Homo sapiens: one gene and its partners. The protein of the gene in region 3 interacts with the protein of the main gene of each other region in a pairwise test. Each region holds a gene or a part of one and is shown on either strand. Other genes may lie near its edges.

What was found.
Region 1: the proteins of RIC3 (region 3) and FA2H interact in binary tests that used the Homo sapiens proteins (3 or more experiments, as listed by UniProt).
Region 2: the proteins of RIC3 (region 3) and TMEFF2 interact in binary tests that used the Homo sapiens proteins (3 or more experiments, as listed by UniProt).

The regions. Positions count from the first base shown.
Region 1 is NC_000016.10:74,708,951-74,717,146, forward strand, and holds the end of FA2H (fatty acid 2-hydroxylase), read right to left. Parts: exon of another isoform or gene 7,650-8,196; coding exon 7,397-7,649; intron 5,320-7,396; coding exon 5,240-5,319; 3' UTR 4,019-5,239; downstream 1-4,018. UniProt on the Homo sapiens protein: Catalyzes the hydroxylation of free fatty acids at the C-2 position to produce 2-hydroxy fatty acids, which are building blocks of sphingolipids and glycosphingolipids common in neural tissue and epidermis.
Region 2 is NC_000002.12:191,993,259-192,005,102, reverse strand, and holds part of TMEFF2 (tomoregulin-2 isoform 1 precursor), read left to right. Parts: intron 1-5,894; coding exon 5,895-6,043; intron 6,044-6,781; coding exon 6,782-6,841; intron 6,842-11,844. UniProt on the Homo sapiens protein: May be a survival factor for hippocampal and mesencephalic neurons. The shedded form up-regulates cancer cell proliferation, probably by promoting ERK1/2 phosphorylation.
Region 3 is NC_000011.10:8,155,261-8,167,104, forward strand, and holds part of RIC3 (protein RIC-3 isoform a precursor), read right to left. Parts: intron 1-11,844. UniProt on the Homo sapiens protein: Molecular chaperone which facilitates proper subunit assembly and surface trafficking of alpha-7 (CHRNA7) and alpha-8 (CHRNA8) nicotinic acetylcholine receptors.

The DNA of each region.
Region 1 (8,196 bases), on a different chromosome or scaffold from region 3:
CCTGCCTCAGCCTCCCAAGTAGCTGGGATTACAGGCATCGGCCACCACGCCCGGCTAATTTTGTATTTTTAGTAGAGACGGGGTTTCTCCATGTTGGTCAGGCTGGTCTCAAACTCCCAACCTCAGGAGATCTGCCTGTCTCGGCCTCCCAAAGTGCTAGGATTACAGGCAAGAGCCACCACGCCTGTAATCCCATTTTTAGGGAACCTAAAAGAAGATATAACCCCACTGCTTTTGCCAGAACAAAAATTTTTTTCTTCTTTTAAATTTCTTCCTCTCCGCTATAGGTGTCTGAGATGGGACAGACACTTATGAGATGAGAGTCCTGGAATTTTCCAAATTTTACATTCATCTTGTGGCATTCTTTATAGATAACATTTATTCATTGGAGCCTGGTGTGGTCTTTGGGCAAAACACCTAACTGTAAAGAAAACTCCAGTTGAAATTTTGCAACCATTATGGCTTTTTTGAAAGTTAGAACTATTCATATACATATTTCCAACTTCCTCTCAAAAATGGCAGATGAGTCAAGAATGTAAGTCAACAGAACGGGTAAATTGGGAAAGGCTAGAATTTTGAAATCACAGATACCTGCTTCCAAAACAGTCCCCGCGAGGGCAGTAATAATGGAGTAGGGCTGCATGCTGCCACCAGAGGGCAGCAGAGGCCGGGAACAGGTGGAGAGGCAAGGCCCAGTTATTCTTACCGTCTGAGATCTGATGCAGACAAGACAAGCATTTATTGGGCTCTGTTACAAGTTGGTCATTGTGCTGGGCACAATAAAAAATCACACAAAGTTCAAAGGCAGAGATCAGAGGTCAGAGCCAACGGGGGAGTGGAACAGAGCAGAATTAAGAGGGCTGTTCTTCAGATCAACTAAGGAACTCCCAAAGACAGCATGTCTGGAAATACAAACACAATACCAGAAATAAATATGATGGCTATTTTTTGGTCTGTTCTTGACCATGGAAGCTGGGTCATCCCTGGAGAATCAGGCGAGGCAAATTTGTAGGGCCACTGAGGGTCAGTCAATCTGCAGATTTACTTTATGCTGATCAGAATTTAAATGGCCCTCTTGGCTGGGTGTTGTGGCTCATGCCTGTAATCCCAGCACTATGGGAGGCTGAGCTGGGGGGATTGCTTGAGGCCAGGAGTTCGAGATCAGTCTGAGTAACATAGAGAGACCCTGTCTCTACTTAGAAAAATTAAAAAATTAGCTGGGCACGATGGCACATGCCTGCGGTCCCAGCTGTTTGGGAGGCTGATGTAGGAGGATCTCTTGAGTCTGGGAGGTCAAGACTGCAGTAAGCTATGATCGCGCCACTGCACCCTAGCGTGGGCAACAGAGTGAGAACCTCTCTCTATAAATAAATCAATAGCTACCTCCCTGAGCAAACATAAAACTTTTTTGGTTTAGTGTCTCTCCCACTGCAGGAATAAACACAATCCCACGTCACAGGTCTAGGCTTTTCCCATCAGGCCAGATGTGTTGGCATTTTGATAATATCCTGTGCTTGCTCTAACATCTAATCTTTGACTCTTACACTTGATGGCAAAATCCTCCAGCTCCCCTAGATGCTCACTGAGGTGGGGGCTGCTCCGTGAGCACTAACTGCTTGGGGATTGCAGGCCTCGTGGCCTTCCTGTATTTTGCCCTGCTGTGAAAACGCAGGCAATATGGCCGGGTGCGGTGGCTCACTCCTGTAATCCCAGCACTTTGGGAGGCTGAGGTAGGAGGACTGCCTGAGCACAGGAGTTTGAGACCAGCCTGTGCAACATGGTGAAACTCCATCTCTACTAAAAATACAAAAATTATCAGGTGTGGTGGCGCGCACCTGTAGTCCCAGTTACTTGGGAGGCTGAGGTGGGAGAATGGCGTGAACCCGGGAGGCGGAGGTTGCAGTGAGCCGAGATCGCGCCACTGCACTCCAGCCTGGGCGACAGAGCGAGACTCCGTCTAAAAAAAAAAAAAGAAAGAAAATGCAGGCAATTACTTCTGCACTCTCAAGTCCCTGTGAGGTGGGACTTGCTCTCTCTCCAAAAGGCCTTGTGGATACTCCCAACCCCACTGGACAGTTACAGCGGTGCAATGGGGAGCTCTGGGAGAATCTGTCAGATTTTCACCAATTGGACTTTTCATTAATAGGTGGGCTTGGTTTCGTGTTGTCACTTTTTTTCTAAATCTTCTCATTACCATGCTAGAAACTCACTTTATTTTTTGGCCTTTCTTATTAGTTTTGTTTTACTTCCTTTTTTTTTTTTTTTTTTTTTTTTTTTTTTTGAGACAGGGTCTCACTCTGTTGCCCAGGCTGGAATGCAGTGGTGTGATCACGGCTCACTGCAGCCGCAACCTCCTGGGCTCAAGTGATCCTCCCACCTCAGCCTCCCAAGTAGCTGGGACTACAGGTGTGCACCACCACACTCAGGTAATTTTCTTTATTTTTTGTAGAGATGGGGTCTCACTGTGTTGCCCAGGCTGGTCTCAAATTCCTGACCTAAAGCGATCTGGCTGCCTTGGCCTCCTAAAGTGTTGGGATTATAGGCATAAGCTTCCATGTCCCGTCTGTTTCACTGTTTGTTTGTTTGTTTTGTTTTGTTTTGTTTTGAGATGGAGTCTTGCTCTGTTGCCCAGGCTGGAGTGCAGTGGCACAATCTCAGTTCACTGCAGCCTCCACCTCCCAGGTTCAAGCAATTCTCCTGCCTCAGCCTCCTGAGTAGCTGGGATTACAGGTGCATGCCACCACGCCCCCCAGCTAATTTTTGCATTTTTAGTAGAGATGGGGTTTCACCATGTTGGGCAGGCTGGTCTCGAACTACTGACCTCAAGTGATCCGCCTGCCTCGGCCTCCCAAATGCTAGGATTACAGGTGTGAGCCACTGCGCCCGGCCTGTTTCACTCTTCTTAAAGAAAATTTTCAATTTTTTTTTTTTTTTTGCTAAATCTTGCTCACCTTAGGCTTTTTCTCCTGCTGTGGCCATGTGTGTTTACACTTGCGGAGCTCCTCCTGTGTTCTTCCTCTGCCTCCCTCCCCCTGGGTGTGATGGTCTAGGGTGAGCTGCTCAGCTCCATCAGTAAATGAAGGTTATGAGTTCTGCTGCTTGGACGGGCTGGGTTCCGGTGACAGGCTTCAGGGACTCGAGTGATGGGTGGCTCCGACGGGTCCTACTTATCTTCGGGCTGGGAGCTGCAGGCATAAAGCTGCCCCTATGACTGCCAGAGCAGGGAGACACAGCAGAGTTCTGGGCTCCCTCCGAGGCTCCCCAACATCAGCTTGCTTCCGCTTCCGTGTCCTCAGACAGGTGAGTCCAGGGCCTACCCCCCTGGACCTACTGAACTAGACCCTGAGTGCGAGGCCCTGGAGCTGCACTTCGACAGCTTCCTAGGTGGTTCCGATAGGGCAGCAGAGAAAGACAAGCAACAGTTTCACCGAGACTGAGCTGCTTGAGGTTCTAGTTCCCACTATGGGCATTTGTTGCTGGAGCCTTTCTCCCTCTGTTTTAGGAAAGTCGACTGGAAGCTCAGTTGGGGTTAGATAAACTCCAGAAGAGATCCCTCCCCATTGGCGGATCAAAGTGGTTTGTGGGCACAATGCATCCCAGGTGCAGGCAATAAGAGGAGATGCTGTCTGCAGAGAATTTAGAAACAGAATAAAGCTGAGTGAGAGAATAAGAGTCAGTCAGCTTTCTCCTTTTGTTTTGTTTTCTTTTGTCTTGTTTTCTTTTATTTTTAGAGATGGAGTTTTGCTATTTTGGGCAGGTTCGTCTTGAACATCTGGCCTCAAGCGATCCTCCCACCTTGGCCTCCCAAAATCTTGGGATTACAGGCATGCACCATCGCGCCCAGCTGAGAGTTGGTCAGCTTTTAATCATCACCATGCCCCAGCAATTCTACCCACCCTGGTCAGGGCTAGAATCTCCCTCCCTGGGGACCAATCCTCTGCCCCTCTATCCCTCCCCACACCACTGCCCCTTCCCAACCACGAGGGAGTCTGATGAACAACTCATTTTTGTTGGTTTCTTTTCAGTGTTTTATTTTTCAAAATATACAATTTAAGTTTTTATTTCACAACCGTAGTTTTGTATATTTATTCCAAAATCTTTAAATAGCTCCGCAGCAAACAGTACAAATCACAAGGTCCGTCAAACTGCTTCTCTTTAGCCTTTACACTTGGCGAGTTTTTTAAGTTTCAAGTAGTAATGGTTTGTGGGTAAGAAAGGAACCAAAAACAGGAGGAAACAACATTTTTTACATAAGCTCAACATGTAGGATTAGAAAGGGCCGTCTGACCAGCTCCTTGGTCTGGGACCAGACTAAGAACATGTATCTGGTTTATAAATAAGACCGTCCTGGGAGCAGTGAGGGTTTTGGTTACGAGGAGGAAGGGGCAGGAACCTCATCTGCGGAGGCTGGGAGGCAGGGGGAGGTGAGGCACTGAGAGGTGGCTCCTTCTGGGAGCGCCCGAGTAGGGGCCTGAGCGGGGTGGAGGCCAAGAATGGCCAGGGACGGGGTGGGGCTGCCACTGGTGGAGAAGCCTCCTCAGCCTCCCTTGGGGAGAAGGGCTGTGATTCTGGAGGCAGGGGAGGGACGGCAAGAAAAGCTGCCAGGTCCTAAAGCAAGCAGCTGGGACTCCTGCCAGCCACCCTGGGCCCAACGACGCAGGCAGCTGGCAGGGCCAGAGGGGCTGCCCCAGGGTCTGGGGTGGACTGTGGGAGGCATCACGCTGTCTCTTCTTGCGAGAGCTCTTTGTCCACCTCAGAGCCACCAAAGCCTCCCCAGAAGGGACAGCAGGGAGGACAGGGACCACAGATCCCACAGACCCACTTCTGACTGTGAAAGCGAGCTGTGCCGTGCAGGCAGCTCCTAGGCAGCCCATGAGGCTAAGGCACAAGGGTGACACAGGTGGCCACGAGGGCTCAGTTTTCTTCATTTCCCCTTGCGGCTGCTACCTGTGGCCACGGCCTGAAGCAGTCCTGTGGGCTGAGCTCTAGGCAGGGACGCTCCAGGAAGAAGTGGGTCACCAAGGGCCACCTGGCCACCAAGTGGATGTGACCCTCCTACCAGGGGTCAGGAGGGCGGTCCTGCCTCAGGGCCCCCTCAGCACCTTCCACTAGGCTGCAGGGCCGGACACAGCCCATCCTGCCTGGCCAAGCCAACCTTCTTAATGGGGTCTGAATGGCGGGTGGGGGTCGGGAAGGGGCCAGGGCCGGGCTGAGGGCAGGACGGAGGGGGTGGGAGTTGTCACTGCGTCTTCAGGTGGGGTTTCTCTGGAGTGAGGGTGTGGAAACAGTAATCCCACAATTTAGTGCTGATACCAAATCCTAGAGAGGGAGACAAACGGGGAGAAGATGAGGCATTGAAGGAGCAGGCGTGCGCTGGCTTGGGAAGGGTGCCAGGGTAGGGATAAGAGGTGGAGACAATGTCAATATCTGTCCCCTTGGCCTTCCCAACTCCCGAGGCCATTCTGGCAGAAGTCAAGGGTGGGGAACCTGTGTCTTTTATTGTCCCCAGCATGAAGCTGGAATAAACCCTAATTCCTTATCTGGCCTTCGTTTCTAGGCTACGTGGCCCCCTCCCACCCCCCACCTCCATCTCCTTCCCCTTCCTTGGGGCCCAAGTTCATTCCTGCCTCAGGGCTTTGCACCAGTCGCTCTTGGGACGCCAGATGCTGATTTCTCTTCATTAGGGTCTTAGCTCTAATGGCACCTCTGCAATGACACCTGGACCATTTAATCTCTTTGCTGTCCAACTAGCCCTTAGCCACACATGGCTACTGAGCACTAGAAATGTGGCTAGAGCTCCAGAGAAACTGAATTTCTAACTTCATTTAATTCTGATGAATTAACATGTCAATGTAAAAACTGATGCTTGATTGAGTTACTGGAATTTTTTTTTTTTTTTTTTTGAGATGGAGTTTCGTTCTTGTTGCTCAGGCTGGAGTGCACTGGTGTGATCTTGGCTCACTGCAAGCTCCGCCTCCTGGGTCCAAGAGATTCTCCTTCCTCAGCCTCCTGAGTAGCTGGGATTACAGGCGCGCACCACCATATCCAGCTAATTTTTTGTGTTTTTAGTAGAGAGGGGGTTTCAACATGTTGGCCAGGCTGGTCTTGAACTCCTGACCTCAGGTGATCTGCCCGTCTCGGCCTCCTCAAGTGTGTTACCGGAAAATGTTTAAGCATGTTTGGAGCAACTTACCTATGTGAACTACTGTTTGCAAATTTTATAAAATCTAGATATGGATCTAGTATTTCTAATGAAACTTTAGTATCTGAATTGAGATGTGCTGTAAGTACAAAATACACCTTAGATTTCAAAGACTTAGTATAAGAGTTGCTAATTATTTTTTTTTAAAGAGACTTTACAAAAAGGGTCTCACTCTGTCACCCAGGCTGGGGTGCAGTGGCATGATCATAGCTCATTGCTGCCTCAAACTCCTGGGCTCAAATGATCCTCTTGCCTCAGCCTTCTAGGTAGCTGAGATTACAGGTGCATATCACCACACATGGATAATTAAAACTTTTTTATGTAGAGACAAGGTCTTGCTATGTTTCCCAGACTGGTCTGGAACTCCTGGCTTCAAGCAATCCCCTGCCTCCGCCTCCTATAGTGCTGGGATTATAGGCCTGAGCCACTGCGCTCAGCCATTAATGATTTTTTAATGTTGATTACATGTTGAAATAATAATTTGCTTATGTTAAGTAAATGTTATTAAAATTCTTTTCATCTGTTTATTTTCATGTCTTAGTGTGGCCACTAGAAAATTTAAAATCACATATGTGGCCCACATAATATGTCAGTGGAAATCGCTGGACCCTCCCCCACCTATGTGATATTCCATCACCTTGCTTTACTTTCTTCTTCTTCTTCTTTTTTTTTTTTTTTTTATAGACAGAGCCTTGCTCTGTTGCCCAGGCTGGAGTGCAGTGGTGCAATCTTAGCTCACTGTAGCTTCTGCCTCCTGGATTCAAGCTATTCTCATGCCTCAGCCTCCCAAGTAGCTGAGATTATAGGTGGGCACAACCACACCCCGCTAATTTTTGTATTTCTAGTGGAGACAGGTTTCACCATGTTGGCCAGGCTGGTCCCAAACTCCTGACCTCAAGTGATCTACCTGCCTCGGCTTCCCAATCCCCTCGGCTGGGATTACAGGTGTGAGCCACCACACCCAGCCCCTTTATTTTCTTTATGGCATTTATCACAGTTTGAAATCTTTGCCATTTATTGATGTCCTTGCCTGTCTCTGCACAGCTGTCTGCACCAGGGAAGAGAGTAGAGGGAACCCTCTGTATATGCCCCGTACATGGAACAGTGCCTTGCCGTTCCCAGGAGCTCGATGGTAGTTGGCAAATAAATCAATGAACACACATAGGGGGCTGGGAAGCACAGGCCCATCCTCACCTGACTTCTGATGTGCAAAGTGGTGCTTGACGTGGTGGGCCTTCAGGCTGTACAGGTAGGAGCCCTTGTGCGGCGAGCCAAAGTGCAGGTAGTAATGGGTCATGTCATAGAGGACGTAGCCCAGGAGGCCCCCCGCAAACACAGTGCCCCCTACTGCCTCGGGCAGGATGAGCTGCATGCACAAGTAGAAGACGCCGATCACCAGGGAGGCTGGCACAGGGGGGAAGACCAGGCGGGAGCCGTCGAAGGGTGCCTGCAGATGGAGAGGCTTGGGCATCAGGAGGCAGCCAGGGGCCCCGGCAGCTGGCCAAACCCTGGCCACTCCCTGCAGAGGACAGGGGCACAGCGGCCCAGACATTCCACTGCGTAGGCTTGGCACCTTTGGTGGCTTTGGGGAGGGCGGGCCACCACGTCTGGAAGATCTGGAGAGACTGTCTTACTTCCCATTTGTGAGCCAGGAAGGGACCTGGCAGATTGCAAAGGAACATGGGATGGGCGGGATGGGCAGGATGGGCAGGATGGGTGGGGTGTGCTGGCGGCTCAGAGCCCATCTTATAGAGGCCACTGTGACTCTGGAATTTGTCAGGTGCTAGACAGGTATCCCATCCCTAAATGCCGTGCCCCTGGCTAGAGGGGCATTCTGGAGACAGGGCACCTAGACTGAGGCCTGATGTTGTCTGGGAGAGCAAGGCACTGAGGGCAACTGAGGTTAATGCAGCCTCTGTGGCGGGATGACCCGGAAGTGTCACTAGAGGTGTCCTCCCCACCCCCATGTCCAAACAGGAGGCCTTTTTTGTTCC
Region 2 (11,844 bases), on a different chromosome or scaffold from region 3:
ATTTTCAGAGGGTAGTATTACCACATACAGACCCCTGAAATTATTATTTTCGAGTAAGGCTGATTCTTTTTCTTTGTAGCCTAGAAGAAAAGAGATCTATGTAATCGCAGTGTCAAAATGTCAAAAGACTGAGATAGGTTGAAAAAACGAAGAAGAAAAGAAAAGAAAACACAAAAAACCTTAAAGGCATTCGTGCAGTCCTCAGCCTTACAAATCTTTGGCTCACATAAAATACTTGTGACATGCTATAATTAACTAGTTACTCCTCTCAGAATGAATAATAATGCAATTATTTGCCAAAAGCAGTGAAGGGATAGTTTCTGTTTTCAAAAACGTGTGCTTTTCATTTCTGCAGAAAGAAAAACCCTTGATTAATTTACATAAGTTGGTAAAGTGACCTGCAGTTTCACCATTACATTATATGATAATTGCTACCTTTTTTCTTTTTCTTTTTTAATCTTCAAAACGTATTTTTAATTATTTATTTAGAGACGGGGTCTCACTATTTTGCCCAGGTTGCTCTCAAATTCCTGACCTCAAGTGATCTTTCTGCCTCAGCCTCCTGAGTGGCTGGGACTACAGGCATACACCACTGAACCTGGCTCTTCTGTCACCTTTTTATCAGAGCCTTATGTTTTTCAGTGGTTTAATGTAGCAATAAACTGACAAGTTGCTATCATGTTCAAATTATATTGGTGCCTGAAACTGTACCCAAATACCACAAATGAGAAGTAGTAGCCTGCCTGGTGAAAACATTTTCTTGCCCCAGTTGGACTTTGATGCCATCAAGATTACTAACTGTTTGTTTCCTGTTTCCTTTGTCTGTGGAAACACAAATAAAAGGAGGACAGTGAGCCTTAGTTCTTCAGGAACCCCCTCTCCTTTGGAGACCCCACATCTGCCAAGTAGCACAAAGTTATCTCTCCTAGGTGTTAATATATAGCACAATGAATATTTTCAACTCTTTCAACACCATCTGCCATTCTCAGTAATTTATTCAACAACCATTTATTGAAGATGTTTGTAATGCACTGTACTAGGTACCAGGATGTCAAAGGTAAGTAAAACACCTTGCCCTTGAGAAGGTTGCAGAAAAGTAGAGGTATAAACAAGTAAACAGGTGCATTACCAATGCAGTAAATGCACCATGGAGGTGAGTGTGAGCCCCCCCCCCACACACACACACAAATTTTTTCACTCATATAAACACACAAAACCACCTCTACCCCATGAATGTAAACTTCCCCAAATTCCTCTTTGAAAGTTTTGAAGCAGACACCTGGAAAAAAATTAATGCTAAAACTCTCTAATTTTGTAATTTCAGTAGAGTTCATTGAGCTATACATTTGTGTGTTTGTGTGTATGTGTATTTGCGTGTAAATATTAGTTTTCATGTGGATCTTTATATAGCATTTTATTTAAGGATAAAATATTTTGAGCAACTGATGCTTTAGATAGTCAGGTTAATCTAATGCCCATAAAATTAGTTACTAATTCTAAAACCAGGTTTTAATTTGCAATGTCTTAAAACTAACATTCACTGATATATCCCAGTGATGCACAAAAAGTCTGGATTGCTTGTTTGAGAAGACAAGGACCAAGAGTCAATATGATTTAAATTCATAAAATCATGACATATTCCAAGAGTAGACATAGCCTTGGTTTTCAAATCCTATTTACTCAAAGGATTCCTTTAATCAGAGAGTGATAGGAATTTGGGTCTGTGATAGGAGTTTGGGTCTGTCTTTCTTTGTACTTTCAGTATGTAGAACAGGGCAGGCTCTGACATCAGACTGCCTAAATTTGAATTTAGGCTCTTCGATTTTCAAGCTGTGAGACTTCTCCAAGTCTCAATTTTCTTATCTGTAAGATGGGCATAGTAATAGTAACTTTTAGAATAGCAACCTTTCTTTAAGAATGTAAAATTGTTAGTGTATTCATTCATTTCATTTAGCTATCCAACATGTAGTTATTGAAAGTTTCATGTGTGCAAGATATTGGGCGGGTTGGGGATTGCAAAGATAATTCAATCACTGCAAATAGAGATCAAGATGGACTTAGAGTTTCAGACCATGGTCTTGGAATCCTGCATGTTTTTCTGACTGAATAAGCTTAATAGACATATATACATGGAATATAGTAAATAATGATTATGTAATCAGAGTTTATTGGTCTTTTGGAAACATAGAAATGGTAGGTCCTTGGTAATCCAGTCACAACATTTCCTTTTCCCCAAGCTTCATCGTTTTTGTGTTTTGTTTTGTTTTGTTTTTGAAACAGAGTCCCACTCTGTTGCCCAGGCTGGAGTGTAGTGGTGGGATCTCAGCTCACCGCAACCTCCGCCTCCCCCGTTCAAGTGATTCTCCTGCCTCAGCCTCCTGAGTAGCTGGGATTACAGGTGCCCAACAGCACATCTGACTACTTTTTGTATTTTTAGTAGAGTCAGCCTTTCACCGTGTCGGCCAGGCTGGTCTCCAACTGCTGAACTCAGGTGATCCGCCCACCTTGGCCTCCCAGGGTGCTGGGATTACAGGCATGAGACACCACGCCCGGCCAGCTTATTGTTTTCAAGCCATTTTAGCAAATCTTTGAAGTTTCTTCCACTTATTCACAAAAAAAAAAAAAATATTCTCCATAGATTTCCAATTTCCAGTGATTGCTGAGAGTCACAGGAAGTATTTTTAAAATGTACTCTTGCATTTATTTAATATATGCAAGTATATAGAGTAGGGAGCAAAGATGGAAGTTAATGATGAGGATATGCAATTGAGAAAAAGACCAATATAATCCATGCATTCCTGAAGCTTATATCCCAGGGAAACTTTCACCTCAAGGAATGAATCTATGTCCTCCTCTTGGGCTGAGAATAAAAACATCAACCATCTATACCTGTTTCTTAGCCATTCCATGAAAGGCTTTATTTGAGGCAACAAGAGCCAGGAATTTTGAGAGGAAACAAATCTTAAAAGGAGGCCTTGAGCAAGCGATGCTAGGAAAGGAAAGGGGGAAGGATGTCAGCAGCAGAAAAGCTGTGGGACCAAAATCAGATTAGTCAAACTGAAAAATAATAAATAAATAAATAAATAAATACACCAATTGGAGAATCTTGTAAAATATCCCACACAATTGTTCAATTTGGTGTTAAAGCTTAAGTGAATTTTTCAGTGAAACACTGATTCTAACCAGTCCAATTCAATCAAATTTTATCTTTCTGTCTGTATTAGTCTGTTTTCACCCTACTGATAAAGACATACCCAAGACTGGGCAATTTACAAAAGAAAGAGGTTTAATGGACTCACAGTTCCACGTGGGTAGGGAGGCCTCACAATCATGGCAGAAGGTGAAAGGTGTGGCAGCAGACAAGAGAAGAGAGCTTGTGCAGGGAAACTTCCCTTTATAAAACCATCAGATCTCATGAGACTTATTCACTATCATGAGAACAGCAAGGGAAATACCTGCCCCCATGATTCAATTATCTCCCACCAGGTCGCTCCCACAACACATAGGAATTATGGGAGCTACAATTCAAGATGAAATTTAGGTGGGGACACAGACAAACTATATCACCATCTCTATTCCCTTTGCACCATTTTGTCATGCTATCAAATGGGTTTCTGAACTGCCAATTACTTTCTGTCTATATATATATGTGACTTTTTCACTGAAACATTTAGAAATGTACACTGTATATATATATAATCTATTTACAAAACATTTACAAAAACATAAATATTAATAAAAATGTAAAATATATATATAGTGTACATTTCTAAATTTCTTTGGACTTAATTTGGATATACCGTCAAAGCCCTAATATCTTATCTAATTTACCATTTAGGTAGACAAGTGACAGAACATACCTTTCTGTTTTTCAGTTGCTAACAAACAACTTTATAGAAGACCTTGAAGGAGATAATTCCTAGAGTCTAACACAACAACAGTCAGAATCTAAACTGGTTTGAAGGCAAAAGAAACTACCTTTTTAAAAATGCAAATGTCAACCTCCTCACTCCTTTTTTATTTAATACAATGATTAAGGCTTGGCCTACAGAGTCACTTATCCACATCCGCTCTATAAGAACCAGAAGCTCTTTGAACATGTAGGCAGCTCCTGATCTCAGGTTTTCAGATGCCAAGAATCAGCTGAGGTAGCAATGTCATGTTCCAGTAGCTTGTGATCACATGGCAACATCAAAGCTAAGGTAGGAACACCGCTCCTCAATGAGTTAAGTGTTTAGAGATGGTTGCCATCTGTTGTAGCTATTTGTTCCTAAATAGGTAAATGTAAAAATAACCAGGCATTCCTACAGCAATTCTCTTACAAAATAAATAAATAAATAAGTAAGTTCATTAGCACATTTTCTGCCAGCATTTTTAAACAGCAATCTAGGTAATTCTGACACAGATGGTCTAAGGACTACACTCTGAGATGCACTGGTGTGTATACAAAGCCTCTCTCAATCAACAGACTGATCAAGCAGTGATTCCCAGGAATTGAGTCTGGTGCCAGGATGACTACTTAAGAATATAGAATGTTAGAAGCTACCCTAGATTTACTGGAGCCCAGAAATCTGCTTATGAATCTGTATACTTAAAAGTTCTCCAGGAGATTCTAATAACACAGTCTGTGGTATTAGAGAGAGGGGGTTGGGTTTTAGCTTAACAAATCTATGAGTGGGACCTTATTCCACAATTTACTAGTGTCTAACCTTATGTAATGTCTTTGGTCTGTAAAACAGCTGTTGTGAGGATTAAATAAAGCAATACATGTTGAGAGTCTAGCATGTAGTAACCTGCTTGCCATTGTATGCCTAGCTCTCAGTAAAATATACAGAAGTAAAAATGTATGCTTCATGACTTTGAGAAACATATAATCTATTTACAAAAACAACATAAATATTAATAAAAATTTAAAATATGAGTTTATATTCTAAAGCTGTAACATGGTTGTACACATACACCAGAAAACACACAAGACACAATATTCAGAATAATAAAATAGAGAAGTGTAAAGATATAGGAACAATCATATAAAATTTTCTTGAAAATGTTTAATTCTTCTTTAGGTAACCTAATTCTCATTAAATCACTGAATTTTTATTTAGATTATAGAAAAATATTAACATCATGAGTGGCAATCAACTTGTATTTATTATTTTATTATTTAAAATGAGAGGTAGAAAAATAGTAGTGTATATCTCGGAAGGGGTTTCATAGGATATGCTTAAAGGGGCCCAAGACAACCCTGAAATTTTATACAGAAGGGTTGTTTATATGAATATGGATATTTCTGGGGAGAGATCTATAGCTTTCATTTTTCCAAAGGGTTTTGTGGCCCCCCCAAAATGTTAAGGACCATTGAAGATTGGTCCTTTTAGTACATTTTATGTGCGTCCTTATTTATGCCAAAGAAATACGACTCCTGATTGCATGCCAAATAATTTACTTGTTTGCTTTCTCTGAACTGTCCTCTGAGTCAGTTTTCCACAAGCTTTAACCATTCAAATATCCCAAGAAAAGAAGGAAGAGTAAGATTCAATTTAAGAAAACTCTAAAGCAGAGTTTCATGACCTCAGCCTATTCATATTCTGCAGATATCAGCATGGAAATTTATGTACATGTTTTAAAAGTTCCAGGGCAGAAATTAACTGATGATCATTTTTGAGTTTTTCCTTTTATTTTTTATCCATTGCTCAGTTGTTTGAATTATTTTCCATTAGTTCTGTGTTTCTTTTCTTCTCAGTTAGAAAAGTGAAGGAACTTCCCTGGAAGGATACAATTCAATTTTGCCAACTTGCATTTTGTCAACTTAGCAATTCTTTCATTTGTGTTTTATTTATAATGTGGTAACAACACTATTGATGTTACATGTTTTTATTTCTCTCTTTTTTTAGGTGTGTGTGTAATATTGACTGTTCTCAAACCAACTTCAATCCCCTCTGCGCTTCTGATGGGAAATCTTATGATAATGCATGCCAAATCAAAGAAGCATCGTGTCAGAAACAGGAGAAAATTGAAGTCATGTCTTTGGGTCGATGTCAAGGTAATGTTCATACCAAAATTCATTTCAAAGAATGATTTTAGTCTTTGTGCAAAAATGAAAAGTGAAGAAAACTCCTTATTAGGCAGCTATTCCATTTCCAAAATGCAGTGCTTATTTACAATGGATAGTAGAGTCTACTGTAGCATTTGTGTCGATTATAGGATTTTGAGGGGCTCTCAGCAACCGTCCAGATCTGTCTCTATACAATGGAACTGTATTGTCACAATGCCATAAACACAGAAGCCAATATTCACAAGATAGCAGACAATTTTCTTGCAAAGGGAAAAAAGAAACTCAAAAACATTTTTAAAACGAATCTAAGAATTTATTAGACATCCTTGAAACTAAAAGCAAATCACTTCATTTTTATGTATTGATTCAGTACAAATATTTAAAATGCATTTTTAAAAGCAAGAGGTACTAGAATGTTCTATTTTCTTTCTTGTTCAGAAACAAGCATTTTCTTAGGTTTTGTTACTCCTTTGACCAATTTTTCTCAGTTATAATTGTGAATCTTCTTCTTCTCCCAAACTTTAGAAAGCTCTCTTCATTTTATTATTTGCTCTCAGACAGAAATTGACATTGTAAATCTGTCTTAGTATGATGCAGGTTGCTTAGAACTACAGTTGTAAAAATTCCTTAATTGCAATGAAGATATTGTTGGAGGAAATATATAAGTTTGATATTAGATATTTAGGAAGCAGTTAATCAATTTTTATTGTTAATTTTTTAACACAGATAACACAACTACAACTACTAAGTCTGAAGATGGGCATTATGCAAGAACAGATTATGCAGGTACATAATATTTTCTTCTACAAAATGTGAGCTCTTCTATTAAAAGAGAGTCCTGGGAAATGGTTGTTTACTACTTATTCCAAAGTGAAGCTTGCAAGACTTCTAACATGTGCTAGCCTTCTCTTGCTTAGTTCAAGCTTTCATTAGGCAAGAGTAATTTTTTGTTGAAGCAAAGAAGACATACGGTTTTTGCCAGAGTTAAAGCAATTGTCAAAAATGTCACTAAGATATAATTAGCTTGTCTTTACAGTGCAAATAGTACAAATAACAAAACATTTATCAAATTAATAGCATCAATGGAAATGAATGCAATTTCTGGCAATATATTATAATAAATGCAAATGTTCTTGTTTAAATTTTCATAAAAGTCAACAATGAAAAGTTTGCTAGTCTCTAAAAAGCTAGAAAGGACAGCTACAAATAATAATGCAGGTTGTCTTTATTTAGATGCAAAGTTAAAAATGTATGTATAGGTTTTTTTAATAGTAAATTTCTTTAACTTATTTTGAAACTAAAATGTAGTTTCTCAGACATGCAAAATTATAAAGCATTTTATATAAATATAAATCATATTTAACAATTATTTCACTTTGAAGAATGTCTCTAGCTAATCTAACTTTTCTAGAGTGAGAAATAATTCATGGGTATACAACTGAAATTTTAACAGATACTTAAATTTTATAGAAATTTGGGATAAAATATATAAATAGTATATAGGTTGATAATGATATGTGAAGTTTTTTAGGCAGAGCTTTTCATTTAGATATTAAGCAATCATAACTAGATTTATGGTAAATATTCAATCAAAAAGAGTTGTTTCTTGTCTTTTAAAATATATACTACCATCTATTCTTTCTTTCTGAAATTTCATTTTCTTTAACATCAGGATAAATGTGTATGAAATTTAAAAAATTAGTTAATATAGAGATCTGAAATCTCTTAGAATTTGGAAATAAAAAAGATATTTTAAACATTTATATTTTAAACATTTTCCACATTTTATCTTAATGTTTTTCAATATGTAGATGGATTTTTTATGTGCTATAAGACAGAAATTATCATGGACAATTATACATGGAAAAACATTGGTTCTACCAATGTATAGCCATTCCCAAAGCGTCCAGGAGAGAAATTTACAGATGTTCCTTGAAAAGAATAGTTCAGTGATCTGTAAGTTTGGAAGAGCTCATACAGACAAATGGGTCTTCTACCCAGAACTTCTCACAGCTCTTATGTTCATTATAAAATATTTAAGAGACATACATCTTTTATTTATTTATTTTACTTTTTGTTGTGGAGAATTTCAAATAAAGGTAAAATACACAAATGTAGGTTCTATAGCTTACTGAACCCACAAGTACTCATCATTCAAGCCCAGTAACACCAACCCGTGGCTAACCCAGCCCTGTCCTCACCCCTATCCTTTTTCCATACTTTCATAATATGTGGAAGCAAATCCTGAAAATTTTATCATTTCATTCACAAATACTTTAGCATGCATCTTGAAAAAAAATCAACAATTTTTTAACAAAGTTACAATACTGTAATCATACCTAATAAAATTATGAATAGTTCCTTATAGTACACAGCTTTTAACAAAATTGTTTGATAACACATTTTTGTGGCATGTTTTGCAGTATTGTTTCCAAGAATGTACATTGTGATATGCTGATCCACAGAAATATTATCAAAAATAATAAAAGATAATAATGAAAAATAAAAGTCTGAGGCTAATTGTATATATTTTAAATTTTAAATGAAAACAAATTTAAATTGTATATATTTTATAAACAATTATTATATTTTGATGGTATTATAAGCCACTGCTACTAACTGCAATTAAAATACCTTTACTCCTATTTTGCAAACTAATTCATTTGGAAAAATCTTCAAAAATGTAGAATTTATGCATATCTTCTTTAGTGAACCATCCGTCTTTGTACTCATTGAAAAATCAAGCCTCTCCCTGAGAATTTTGTTCCTGAAACAAAGAACTCTTCAAGTTGATCAGTGTCAATATACAAATATATATGCATTTATAAAGTTATTCCAATAAATATCATGAGAGATTCTACTGATCTCTCAAAGTCATTCATATTGCATGTTAACATTTTGCCCATTTCAAAGAGATTTGATAATTGAATTTTTATTCCAAAAAGTATTTATATATGGGTTTGGTTTTTTAAACAGATTATCTCTAATGTTGAGTGTCACTGTTCTTAATTGGCATTTTTTTTTCCTATCTTACTGCTTTATTAGGCATAGGAAGAAAAAAATACATTTTTAATACATGCAAATGAAAACTCTTCTGTCACTCATTGTAGTCCAGGATCTTCTAGTTTGGTGTCAGATTTATCCTGCAAACTCTAAAGAAAAACTTTTAAGATAAAAGTAAATTTTAAAAATACATGTTTGTTGAAATCCAAGTATAAGACAGGAACAAAGATAATGTCAATTGAAGCTTGTAATTCCTAGTTAAACATAGATTGCATACGTCAAGATTCTCAAGAAATTTTAGATATATTTGTCTTCATTAATGGTTTCATTAGAATACAATATACACCCTCTTTAGAAATCATTTAAGTAATAGTCATGTTCCTCAACATTTCCAAGCTTCCAATAGTATTTACAGTTTCCTGAATTTGGGAACACAAACTGTGGAAAAAATTAAAAGGAACCAAATAGAGAGTCTATGTGTCATTGTCCTCTTAATTACTATTTCATATGCTAAAATCTGTCCAAGGAGGGAAAACAGGAACTGTGTGACTCGTATCCCTCAAACTTTGCTGTGTGCTCACAGCTCATTTAATGTCACAGCCACTTCCCTTGTTAGACACACATTCACGGACTCTCCCACCTGAGGGAAGTAAGGATCTAACATACTATCATTTTTGCCTTATATCTAGTTAACACTATAGATTAAAAACCCTTATTTATCCCTCTCAGTTTTTTCTTTGAGCCTACTTTAAGAGCTATTAATACAGGAACACATGTTTCTGATTATAAAAATGGAGATCTTCTTGAAAGAAAGTCTAAATCTTAAAATAAATTAATTGTATCTCATTTTTAATATCAGTTAAAAGAGATCCCAGCAAGGATCAGCAGGAGGTGAATTACCAAAACGTGCAATAAATGCAAACGAAGGGAGCAATGCCTTCAACAAAACTAATATGTGCAGTATACTAGAGTGTGGCATACTTGCTCAGAGATGTGAATTCCATGATCCTCAAAGGCACATAAATGTAGTCAACACTAGGAAACCAAAGAATTTGCTCAATCATCCCTGCCAGTATTACTTTCTGGTTGCATTTGATTTGGATCTCTATTCTGCCCTCTCTCCTTTAATGAGACCCAAGGCATTACAGAGCTTTGAATAAAGGGCTTTGGATCTCTTCATTTCAAAGCCCAGTGACAGGATACTTGTCAGATGAGCTAACCAGGCCATTTAATGTTATTCTCCCTTCATCAATATAAGACTTGGGCTTAGAGTTAGGTCTGTCTCTACACCCACAGAAAGATTCGGGAACACAAATTTTACAAACACACAAAGCTAGGGCTTTCCAGGCTTTTCATTGTCTTAAATTGCTAAAATTAAACTGTCCTTTGGGAAGTTTTTAAATAGCAAATGTTTTACACCTCTTGAAATTTGCAACATTTTCTTTCATATATATGTGTATATATGTGTGTGTGTGTGTCCCTCATGTCTTCTAATGGAAAAGAAAAATGAAGTTCAACTATTTGTTTTTCTTTATCCAGTATATATATGTATATTTTCTGATTGTGTTGTTTTTCTGTCTAAAAGTTTGGTCATGCTTCAAAAAAAAAAAGGCTATATTTTTTCCAGTAAAAATGTACTTAATTTTATAAGTTGTTAGATATTTTATAAAATGAAGTCAGATGATATTGGTTTTAATTATCTAGAAAATAAAATGTTTTTTATTTTATGACATCCTACACCAGTTTTCAGAGTTTGGAGTGTTTTATAATTAAAATACATTTGTATTTTTCTTCCATATTTTTTAAATTGAAATTGTTTAAATAGAAATTGAAAACATAAAATCAGAATTGTTAAAGAAAATACATATACCAGCAACACAGACTATTACAGTTACTGTATTTAGCCCTAAGTTTCTTTGCAACCAATACAAAAGAAGAAATTATGGTTGAATCAATTCATTCAACAAATATTTGCAGTCACCGCAATATGCAAGCCCCTGTCCTGGGGTTTTACAAAGGTGAACAAGTCAACATAGGTATCTGCTAAATGAAACTTAGATTTTTATTGTCTGATAAAAAATAAAAAATAAGTTCAGAGACAAAAGACAAAGTTTCTCTATGCTAAATTATAAAGGAACTATTTAGCATAGATCTTTCTACAAGGCATCAGTGAAAAACATAAAATGAATAAAATCTTCAACAATGATTTTTACAAAATACGCCAAGAGGCTCTCCGTATGGCTGGGAATTTTTAAAATCAATTTTTGACAACATCCTAGAGCATAGAATTAAAATATGTATAACTCAAGGACAGTGTTTCTATGACAGACTAAAGTAATGACTTTCATTTATGGGTATTTCCAATTTTCCAAATTGGAAAAAATACAGAGGAAATAGCTATGAGGAGGAGCATGTTGAGCTTATTTTCCTCATGGATACATAGGTTGAACAGGAACAGGAGTAAAGTTAAGATAAAGACTATGCTGGATTATAGTATGTATGTGGGGAGAAGATATTTCCCCTGGCTGTTCGTGAAAAATGTAAGTCCTGGATTTCATGTCCTCGGAGGGGAGACAGGGCCTCCCTATCTCTGAGTCTAGCTACAGGCCTGCGTCGAGTTCCTGTGTTTACTTGTTGAACATTATACTGTGGCAATTCATTATTTCTTGTAATATTTATTTTTAGGAAAATTTCCATTCCTCATCTTCAAACAATAATTTATACATTAATCTCAGGTCTGAAATGTGGAAGAAAGAAATCAGAAATAGTTAAACGACATTCTGTCC
Region 3 (11,844 bases):
AGCTTAACTAAAAACTTAATGTCAATGGATTCTGGCCAGGTGAGGTGGCTCACGTCTGTAATCCCAGCACTTTGGGAGGCCAAGGCGGGCAGATCACCTGAGGTCAGGGGTTCAAGACCAGCTTGGCCAACACGGTGAAACTCCGTCTCTACTAAAAATACAAAAATTAGCTGGGCATGGTGGCACATGCCTATAATCCCAGCTACTCGGGAAGCTAAGGCAGGAGAATCGCTTGAACCCGGGAGGCGGAGGTTGCAGTGAGCCAAAATCGCGCCACTGCACTCCAGCGTAGGTGACAGTGAGACTCCGTTTCAAAAAAAAAGAAAAGAAAATGGATTTTACAAAGTGAAGCTCTACTTTCCTTTGTTAATAACCATACCTATTGCTAAAAACAAAAACAGAAACTTCAGCACTGTTAACAAAAGAGTTTTCTGAAAGCAACATTAACTCATCTGCAGCATTTCATTCTTGGGGCAAATAAATCTATAAAGAACTGGACATGTTTCTATTTTAATAAAAAATAGAAACAGCGGTTCAAGAAAGGTCTTAAGGGGGCCAGTTGCTTAAGATAGCCAAGCTTTTCCCTAAATATTGAGGAAGCTGTAGAAGCCATATTTGATTCAGCATTACTTGAAGTAGAAGCCAAGACAATAGCTGTTTCTTCCTCACCGGTCTCCTCCAAGGGCCCTATCTTGTTACATTTCCCTTCTACCTGATTCTGCTTTGTTCTCTACTGCTTTCACATTTTCTGCTAATTTAATCAGATTTCTTTCATCTTTTATCAACCTCTCCATTCTCAATCCATCCTATATATTACTAAAAGAGATCATTGTGTGTCTAAGTTGCTTAGCACAGGGCCCGATCCACACACTCAATACACATCAATTACCACTGTTTTGTTACCAGAATAATCTTCCTAAAGCACAATTCTAACTGGTCTTGCCAGTTCTCTGATCAAAAGCTTCTAATAGTTTCCACTGATGACAAGAGGCTGTATTACAGCAGAATGGAGGTAGCAGAGTGAAGTGGAATGAGTGCCACCTTTTCAGTCAGTTACTGGTTAAGATTATGGCTGTGCCTCCCACTATTTCAGTGGAGGTTAAATTAATCTTTCTAGGGCTCATTTTCATCATCTGTAAAATGGGCATGATATCTACTTTCCAGAGTTTACAAGAATTACAGATTAAATAATATCATATATACAAAGCACCTAGCACATATAGTAGGTATTTAACAAATTCTGATTTTCCCTCCCCACAAACTGAATTCCTAAACAACTGAATTCCATAATCTAACCCAAAAGTGCTCTTCACACTACTTTCCCATTACATACCACTCATTTAGTCAAACTAGGGTTCTCACCATGCTTTGAACCTGACTTTCACCTTCTTGCTTCTGAGCCTATGCTTATCCTCCAGTGGCTTTGCTTTCCTCTCCAACTCCACATATCTAAATCCAGCCAATCCTCCAAGGCCCAGGCCAGATACTGCCCCCATGCCCCCGAAGCATTTTCTCATGCTATTCCCCATGCCTGTAAAACACACTGCTTGAGCCTCTTTAATTGCACTTACCACACTTGGCCTTAATCAAGAGTTTTATTAATGTGTCTTATAGCCTGTACTTAAATGAACCGGGAAACAAAAACAGGTAACATTTTCCACTAAACACCATCTCTATCCAATTTTATTTGGTGTATATCATATCTGAGAACTAGAAAAGCAGCCTCTAACATCTAAAAGTTGGCCTGGTATTATCAACTAGGCATTAATACTGCTATGAGCTGGCTTGGTACTCACAGATAAGTTGTGGTGTTCTCCTGTTACACATAAGCTATTTCAGAACACCAACATTAGACAAGGCCATTCTGTGATCATGACGGATCAAGACAAAAAACAAGACCACTCAGTAATCTGTCTGAACACAGACAAAACATGAACACTGTCCAAGCCACTAAATACCTAATATCCCCCAGTGCTGAGTAATGTGAACGATGGGGCTGCTTTATCAATTACAGCTTTAGCCTTTCTCTAGTTGGCCCTCCCTTTAGATAAACTGTTAAGATACCAGTCCTAGAATTTGCCTTACTTCCTGAAAGCATCTAATTCAGAGTAAAGTACCACATCCTTAAACCATCCTCCAGATCACCTAACACAAACCCAAATCCTATAATGACTTTTTCTAACAGTGCCTTATTGAGATGCCCCACAATTCCCCATGGTGTGCATTCTCCCTTGCTGCAATGAGTAATACACTCAACTTGTTCAACTACAGGTGTGTTCCTAGTGGTCTCCGGCTGGAAGACAAACTAAGAACTTCTTGAATAAAGGCCTAGTGTTTTATTTGTTTGGGTTCCCAGGGCAGGCTCTGGATCTTGCCTACTACAATCTTTGCTGACCTGATTTGGATGAATTATACTGGGAGTGTTAGCCTTTATTAGAATCTCAAGATCCTGCCCAGTCATTTGTAGGGCTAAAAATAGTTTTTTACTTCATTATCCTGCCAGTTTTCAATTTTATAGTTTCTAGAATAGAAACTGGCAATTAGGATGACTGATCAAGCAAGGTATTCCATACCCACTTACCTGTACGTTTCTAAACTTGAAAAAATGCCTAATTTACACGCATTCATGGGCTCTCAAATTGTCTGTTGTTTTCTGTTCATTTCCATAATACATGAACAGGAAAATGACCCTCTGAAATCAAAATGATTTCCTAATCTCTGTCCTTCAAACATTCCTTCAGAGTAGATCTCTGATGCTTCATTAGGGAAAATAAATGGTAACCAACCAAAATAATATATTTGTCTTCAGGCACTTACATACCAACACATAAGAAGCTAGTTTAAGATAACACAGAACTATGTATGTATATGTATGTCATACATGTATATGTGTATATGTTTGTATGTGTATATTTATATACACATATACATGTATCTGTATATTTTCACATCTCAGAGAGATTAAGACTCAGTGGGACACAACTTACTTAGGGAGAACATCGTGACAAAGGGTCTGTGCTATTCCACAGGAACAGGGCCACTGGAGAGGGGCTACTAAGGAACCCTATTTATAAGCATTCAGGCAGGGTCAGCAGGAAAGATGCCCAGATACAGTGTTACTGTGGGAACACCAAAGGTTCCCAGCCAAGTAGAAGTAGTAGATAGGACTCTCTTGAAGCCACCTCCAACACAGAGTGGCACACTGTCATCTTGGAGTACTTCAACTACCCTGCAACCTATTCAAACTCTCATTCAGCTGACAATGGAACAACTGACAAGTTCTTGACCAAGTGTGCTGACATTTTTATGTTCCACAGGTACACAGGGAGAGCAGAAGAACTGCTACTCTGATCAAAGAAGAAGCTCTGATGAAATGAAAGGAGAACCTCAGGAGAATGAGATCTTAGTGTTTCTGACAACAAAGTAGGAATCGTGTAGCACAAACTCTAGGAAGCCAGAGTTAAGAAGTTTTTTGTTTGTTTTTTGTTTTATTTTGAGATGGAGTCTCTGTCACCCAGGCTGCATTTCAGTGGCACGATCTCAGCTCACTGCAACCTCCGCCTCCTGGGTTCAAGCAATTCTCTGCCTCAGCCTCCCGAATAGCTGGGATTACAGGCATCTGCCACCATGCCCAGAGAATTTTTGTATTTTTAGTAGAGACGGCGTTTCACCATGTTGGCCAGGCTGGTCTTGAAATCCTGACCTTGTGATCCACCCGCCTTGGCCTCCCAAAGTGCTGGGATTACAGGCGTGAGCCACCGCGCTCGGCCACAGAGCCTCCTTTCTAAGTAGGAAAAGAGACAATAAACAAGATAATGATAAATACTAAGGAGAAAAAATAAGACAGGGAGAAGGGGTAGGACCGTGTTGGAAGTTAAGATTTTAGCTGGAATGGCCAGAGAAGGCATCAGGAAATGCAGTTTGAGAGAAAACATGAAGACGAAGGGAAAGGCACATGGATATCCAAAAGAAGAGCATTTCAAACAAGGGAAACAGCAAATGCAAAGGCACTGAAGTGGGAACATGCTTGGCATATTCAAGGAACAGTGAGGAGGAAGCCAGTGTGGCCACAACAAAGTGAGACAGATAGAAAAGTAGAAGCAAATGGGGAAGAGAATTACATAGGGCCTTTTGGGTCATGTATAGACTATCTTTTCATCTAAGCCAGGAAGCCACTGTAGAGTTTTGAGGAGGGGAGAGATGTGAGTTGACTTAAGCTTCAACATAATACTATCTGGCAGCTATATTGAGAATAGACTGAAGTGGGGAAGGAGGAAGGAGGCAAACCAGGGTGACAGAGTAAGATGGAATAGAGCAACCAAATAACCAACTGGTTGAATGACCCTAAACAAAACGTTTCCATGAATACAGTGGTGGGACTCTAAAAGCAGTTTTAAATGACTAAGACATTTAAAAAAATAATTTGACCTATCAAGAAAACATGCTGAGGCTGGGCATGGTGGCTCATGTCTGTAACTCCAGCACTCTGGGAGGCCAAGGCAGGCAGATCATCTGAGGTCAAGGGTTCGATACCAGCCTGGCCAACATGGTGAAACTCCGTCTCTACTAAAAATACAAAAAAAATTAGCCAGGCGTGGTGGTGGATGCCTGTAATCCCAGCTTCTCAGGAGGATGAGGCAGGACAATTGCTTGAACTTGGGAGGCAGAGGTTGCAGTGAACTCAGATCCTGCCACTACACTCCAGCCTGAGAAAAAACAAACAAAAAGAGAAAACATGCTGATCATAATCAAAGGTAAAATTGTAAAAAAAGAAAGAAAAAAAGAAAAATTATAACATGGTGGGAAAAATTTGAACACCAACTAGATATTTAATGACATCAAGGAAGTATTGACTTTTTAGGTGTGACAATGGTATTGTGGCTACATTTTAATAAGAATCTGTTTTTAGAGATGCATACTGAAGCATTTAAGGATGAAAAATGATCCAATGTCTAGGATTTGCTTCAAAATAATCCAGTGAATGGGGGGAAAAGTGGGTGGGGATACCCATGACACAAGACTGACCATGTATTGATGGCTGCTGAAGCAGGATGATATGGATTCATTTTACTACTCTCTCAACTTTTGCTTATGTTTGAAAATGTCTTTAACAAAAAGTTTTTTAAAAATCAAGAATGGCACACAGCTAAGAAATGGTAAGCAGATACATTGAATGAAACATTGAATGCTCTGAAAAAATTTCAAGAGCTAGAATTCTTGGCCAAATTTAAACAAATAAAATGCAACAAGGAAAACTACAAATTCCTACATTTCATTCCGAAACATCAAGTGAACAGTAGAAAATGAACAAAACCTAGATGAGCAGCTCCTATTAAAAAGAAGAAAAAAAGGCTCAGAATTCTAATATACAGCAAAGTCAGCAAGGAAAATGCTAAAAACTAGAGCAATCCCCAGAAAGCATTAAGTATAGAAGAAGAAGAGTGCAGGGAAACAACAGATTGCTCTTTCATGAACTGTCTTAGATATGCTGTTATTTGCAGTTCTAAGAGCCTCTTCTGAGAGGGCTGTGTTCAAACACTTGCACCTAGGTCATACCAGGAACGGATGAGGGAGCTAGGGATGTTAACACAGGAAAGAAGACTGAAGAAAGGGACATAATACTACTTTTCCAATTCCTGGATTAATCATCTTACACCTGTAAACCAAAAAGTATCTGGGACAGGCCTCAATCAATTTAGAAGTTTATTTTGCCAACGTTAAGGACACGCCCAGGAGAGAGGTCTGTGCCTTTCTCCAAAGATGATTTTGAGGGCTTCAATATTTCAAGGGGAAAAGTGAGCTGGAGGGGAAAGAAGGGTATGGTAATCTATATGTTGCAAGAGAAAAGGAGCAGGTAGAGGAATAGTCAATTATGTATTCATCTGGTGCTCAGTAAATCGGCACTTCACGTAAGATACGGTGAACATAGAGTAGCTACCTGTAGAGATATTTAATTTTTTATCTGTAGCTACCTGCTTAGGAACAAAAGGAAAGGCAGTTTCTTGCACGACTCAGCTTTCAGCTTAATTTTTTCCTTTTGGCATAGTGAACTGGGGTCCCAAGTTTTTATTTTCTTTTCACACACCTTTAATCTACTTTTCCTCCATTCCTATTTTGGCAAAGGAAATCAACATCTATCCCTTCACCTAAACCTGAGAATAATCCAGATGTCTCCCTCTCCCTCACTTTCCCATTCTATTTTAAAATGTCTCTTAAAATTATTCTCTTCCCTCCAATCTATCCATTGATAACCTCTCTTGCTCTAATATCCATATTTTCCTTTGGGAACTCCTCTCAACTCCAGAGTGGATTCATCAGTATATTCTTTCTACCCACAGCACCACAAGTTAACTTAATTCAAGCCATTAACGTGAACGGATATGTTTGCTGGAACTTCTGGGAAAGAATCTTGGGAGTGAGGCTGGAAGGTGAGAGTGATGGAGGACTTAAAAGAAAAGAGGCCTGGAGCTGTGCCCAGCAAAGTGCTGTAATCCCAGCACGTTAGGAGGCTGAGGTGGGACAATGACTTGAGGCCAGGAGTTCCAGGCCAGCTCTACACACACACGTATATAAATGAGACACTCCCACTTTCTCCGGGCAATGGAATGTGAGGAGGTAATGTCCGAAACTGTTGCTATAAATGAGACACTCACTTTCTCCGGGCAATGGAATGTGAGGAGGTAATGTCCGAAACTGTTGCTATAAATGAGACACTCACTTTCTCCGGGCAATGGAATGTGAGGAGGTAATGTCCGAAACTGTTGCTATAAATGAGACACTCACTTTCTCCGGGCAATGGAATGTGAGGAGGTAATGTCCGAAACTGTTGCAACCATTGCTACCACCCTGAGAGGGCAGCCAGAGCACAGAACCAACTTGAGAACGAACCCAGAGTGAAAAGGACACAGAAAATAAGAGCTAGAGCCCCAGTGTGACAACTGTGAGTCTCTGGTTCAAACCATACTGCAAGACATTTCTAACACAGGGTCTTTTCATTTACACAAGTCAATAAATTCCCTGTCTTAGTCAAGCTGACTTTTCTGTCACTTGTCACAAGCACCCTAACTGGTGAACCCAATGACAATGACTTGGTGATGCTCATGATGTCTCAACTGGATGACTACAACAATCTTCTCCCTGAAGAAATCCTCACAACGCAGTGTCTACACTGCTGCCAGGGTGTCCTTTCTAAAACCAGGTTAAATGTTTCTCTTCTCCTTACACACTCAATGATGCCTCATCTGCCTTTAGAATAAAACCCAATCTCCTTAAGAATGACAGAAAAAAACCTTCACAATTTGGCCCGTGCCAACTTCTCTGGTGTCTTCTCTCACAACTCTGAGGATACTTCAAGGCTCCATGCTTCTTCTTTTTTTTTTTTTTTTTTTTTTTTTTCTTTTTTTGAGACAGAGTCTCACTCTGTCGCCCAGGCTGGAATGCAGTGGTGGGATCTCAGCTCACTGCAACCTCCAACTCCCAGGTTCAAGCAATTCTCCTGCTTCAGCCTCCCAAGTAGCTGGAATTACAGGCGTGCACCATCAGACTGGGCTAATTTTTATATTTTTAGTAGAGACGGGGTTTCTCCGTGTTGGCCAGGCTGGTCTCGAACTCCTGGCCTCAAGCAATCTGCCTGCCTTGGGCTCCCCAAGTGCTGGGATTATAGACATGAGCCACCGTGCCTGGCCCTAAGCCTCTGTGTTTCTTTGCTCAGTATTTCTTCTACCTAGAATGCCCTTCTTTTTCATCTGGATTATTTAAACACACACACACACACACACACACACACACACATACACACACACACACACCCCCCAAAACACTTTAAGAACTGCCTCCTCAATTTAGCCAAGGAAGGTAAAGCTGGGTTAACATCTAAATTTCAATTAATGTAATATGCCACATCAGTAAAGGACAAAACTCACATAATCATCTCATAATCATCTCAACAGACATAGAAAAAAAGTATTTGATAAAATTCAATACCCCTTCATAATGAAAAACACTCAGCAAACTAAGAATACAAGGGAACTTCCTCAACCTGAAAACAGGCATCTACGAAATGCCCCCAGATAACATTACATATGCTAGTAAAGCATACTTCTTAAGATCAAGGACAAGAAAGGATGTTTGTTCTTACCACTTCTATTCAACATTGCACTAAAGGTTCCAGCTAGGGCAGTTAGGCCAAAAAAAGTAAAAATAAAAATAAAAGGCATTCAGATTAAAAAAAAAAGTAAAACTATCTCTATATGCAGACAAGTTCAGCGAGGTGACAAGATACAGTATCAATATACAAAAACTAATTGTCTATACACTAAGGAACAATCTGAAAACAAAATTTATAACAACATCAAAAAGAATAAAATACTTATGAATATATTTAACAAAATAAGACTTTCACACTAAAAACTACAATCTCCTTTAAAATAAATTAAAGACCTAGATAAATAAAAAAGAAATCCTCTGTTCATAGATTGAAAGATTTAATATTGGTAAGATGGCAGTACTCTCCAAATTGCTTCAGTTCACTCTATCAAAATCCCAACTGGCATTTTTTTTTTTTTTTTTGGCAGAAACCAAAGTGATGATCCAAAATTCCTATGGAAATGCTAGGTCACAGGACCCAAAATAGCAAAACAATCTTGAAAAAGAAGAACAAAGTTTGAGGACACATTTCACGATTTCATAACTTAGAAAACTACAATAATTAAGACAGCATGGTACTGGCTAAGGATAAGTATACAGATTAATGTAATATAATTGAGAGTCCAGAAACAAACTCTTACATTTAGAGTCAACTGATTTGACATGGGTGCCAGAACAATTTAATGAGAAAAGAAGAGTCTTTTCAACAAATGGTGCTGGGGCAACTATATATCCACATGAAGTTGGACTCCTACCTTACCCATATACACAAATTAATTCAAAGGGATCAAAGACTTAACTGCAGGAGCAAAAACTATAAAACTTGAAAACATAGGCATAAATCTTCATGACCTTGGATTTGGCAATTTGTCTCAGATATGACACCAAAAGCAGGAGAAACAAAAGAAAAAAGTAGATAAATTGGACTTTGTCAGAGAAAATGTAAAACTTTTCTTATTCAAAGGGCACCATCAAGAACGTGAAGGCAACCACTGAATGGAAGAAAATATTTGCAAATCATATATCTGATAATAGATTTGTACCTAGAATATACAAAGAACTCTTACAACTCAACAATAAAGACAAGACGCCAAGTGTGGTGGCTTACACCTGTAATACCAGTGCTTCAGGAGGCCAAGGTGGGAGGATCACTTGAGGCCAGAAGTTCAAGACCAGCCTGGGAAATATAGTGAGAGCCTCATTTCTGCCAAAAAATTTAAAAATTAGCCAGCTATGGTGGCACACACCTGTAGTCCTAGTTACCTGGGAGGGTAAGGTGGGAGAATCACTTGAGCCCAGGAGTTTGGGGCTACAGTGAGCAATGATGGCACCACTGTATTCCAGCCTGTGCACCAGAGTGAGACCCTGTCTCTCTCAAAAAAAAAAAAAAAAAAAAAAAAAAGACAAGTAATCTGACTTTTAAAGAGGGTTAAAAGGACCTGAATAGACATTTCTCCAAAACAAGATATACAAATAGACAAAGAGTGAATAAACACACAAAAAATGCTCAATGTCATTAGTCATCAGGGAAATGCAAATAAAATCACAATGAGATACCATTTCATTCCTACTAGGATGGCTATCATCAAGAAGACAGATAACAAACAAGTATTGACAAGAAACCAGAAGCCCTCTTACACTGCTGGTGGTCATGTAAAATGGTACAGCTGCTTTGGAAAATGGTCTGGCAGTTCCTCAAAAGGTTAAACATGTAATAACCATACAACCTAGAAATTCCACGCTTAGTTCCAGCCACACTGGAATGCTCACATTTTCCAAATGTATACACTCAAGAGAAATGAAAACATTAAGTCTACACAAAAATTTGTACACAGATATCAGTAGCAACATTATTCATAATAGCTAAAAGGCAAAAATTCAATGTCCATCAATTGATTAATGAATAAATGAAATGTGGTATATCCACACAATGAAATATTATTCAGCCATAAAAAAAGTACTGCTACATGCTACAACATGGATGAACCTTGAAAACATTATGCTAGTTAAAAGACGTCAGTCACAAAAGATCAGATATTATATGATTTCATTTATACCAAATGTCCAGAACAGGCAAATCTATAGAGACATAAAGTAGATGAGTGGTTGCCTAGGGCTGGAGGTGGGCTGGGGGATTTGTGGAGTAATAGCTAAAAAGTACAGGGTTTCTTTGGGGGCTGAAGAAATATTCTAAAATTGGTTGTAGTGATGGTTGTACAACTCTGAATATGCTGAAACCCAATAAATTGTACACTTTAAGTGGGTGAATTGTATGATATATAAATTAGATCTCAAGAAAGCTGTTATCAAAAAAAAAAAAGACTTCCCTCCTCTATGTTCTATGAAACCTGTTTTTTGGGGTTTTTTTTTTGTTTTGTTTTGTTTTTTTTTTTGGCAGAGTCTCACTGTGTTGCCCAGGCTGCAGTGCAGTTACACAATCACACCTCACTGTAGCCTTGACCTCCAAACTTCAAACGATCCTCCCACCTCAGCCTACAGAGTAGCTGGGGCTACAGGTGCACACCACCATGCCCAGCTAATTGAAAAAAAACAAACTTATTTTGTAGAGATGGGGGTCTTGTTATGTGGCCCAAGCTGGTCTCGAACTCCCAGGCTCAAGCAATCCTTCCACCACAGCCTTTCAAAATGCTGGGATTACAGGCATGAGCTGTCACACCTGGTTTATGAAACCCTTCTTAAGTCCCAATAACACTGACCATTGCATACATGTCTCCATTGTTCCCTGCGCAGACTTGAGTAACTGTGACTGACACTCTTGCATTTATCTGCTAACATGTCTGTTTTGCATTTATCTGTTGACATGTCTACTTTCCTTTACTAAACTGTGGCCGCCTCAAAGCATGGAGTTCGCTCATTTTTTCTTGGAATACATAGTGTCTATACACTATGTGCACAGTATGTGATATGGTACATCATAAATATTTGTTAAAAGACTATCTTAAAGGCTTTCATGTGGAAAGGGAACTGTGCTTGTTTCATGCACATCAATGGGCAAAAATGGAAGACATAACAACATGTATTTTTAAGAATTTTCAAATACTCAGGGTTATTCCTTTCTTCAAAGCAGGGATTTCTGGGTTCTGAGAATTCTCTGAATTGATACTGAAATTCTGAGTACAATAAGAGTATGTACCTTTTTCTAGAGAGAACATACAGTTTTAGGCTGAGTGCAGTTGCTCAAGCCTGTAATCCCAGCACTTTGGAAGGCTGAGGCAGAAGGATCACTTGAACCCACGAGTTCGACACCAGCCTGGACAATACAATGAGACCCCCATCTCAACCAAAAACAAAAAAAATTTTTTTTAATTAGCCAGGCATGGTGGCATGTGCCTGTAGTCCCAGTTACTTGGGAGGCTGAGGTGGGAGGATCAGTTGAGCCCTAGAAGTAGAGGCTGCAGTGAGCTGTGATCATGACTCTGCACTCCAGCCTGGGTGACAGAGTGAGACCCAGGGAAAGGGAAAGAGAAAGGGAAAGGGGGCCAGGAAGAGAGGAAAGGAGGGAGGGAGGGACAGAGGGAGGAAGGAGAGAGAAAGAAAGAAAATACATAGCTTTTATAAGATTCTCAATGGTGTATGTAACCCCAAAATGGTTAAGATTTTTTGCTGCAAGTTTCAGTTACTGGAATGTACCATTCAAGGTAAGTTTTTTCCTAGGTTATACTACTTCAGTAGCTTCTC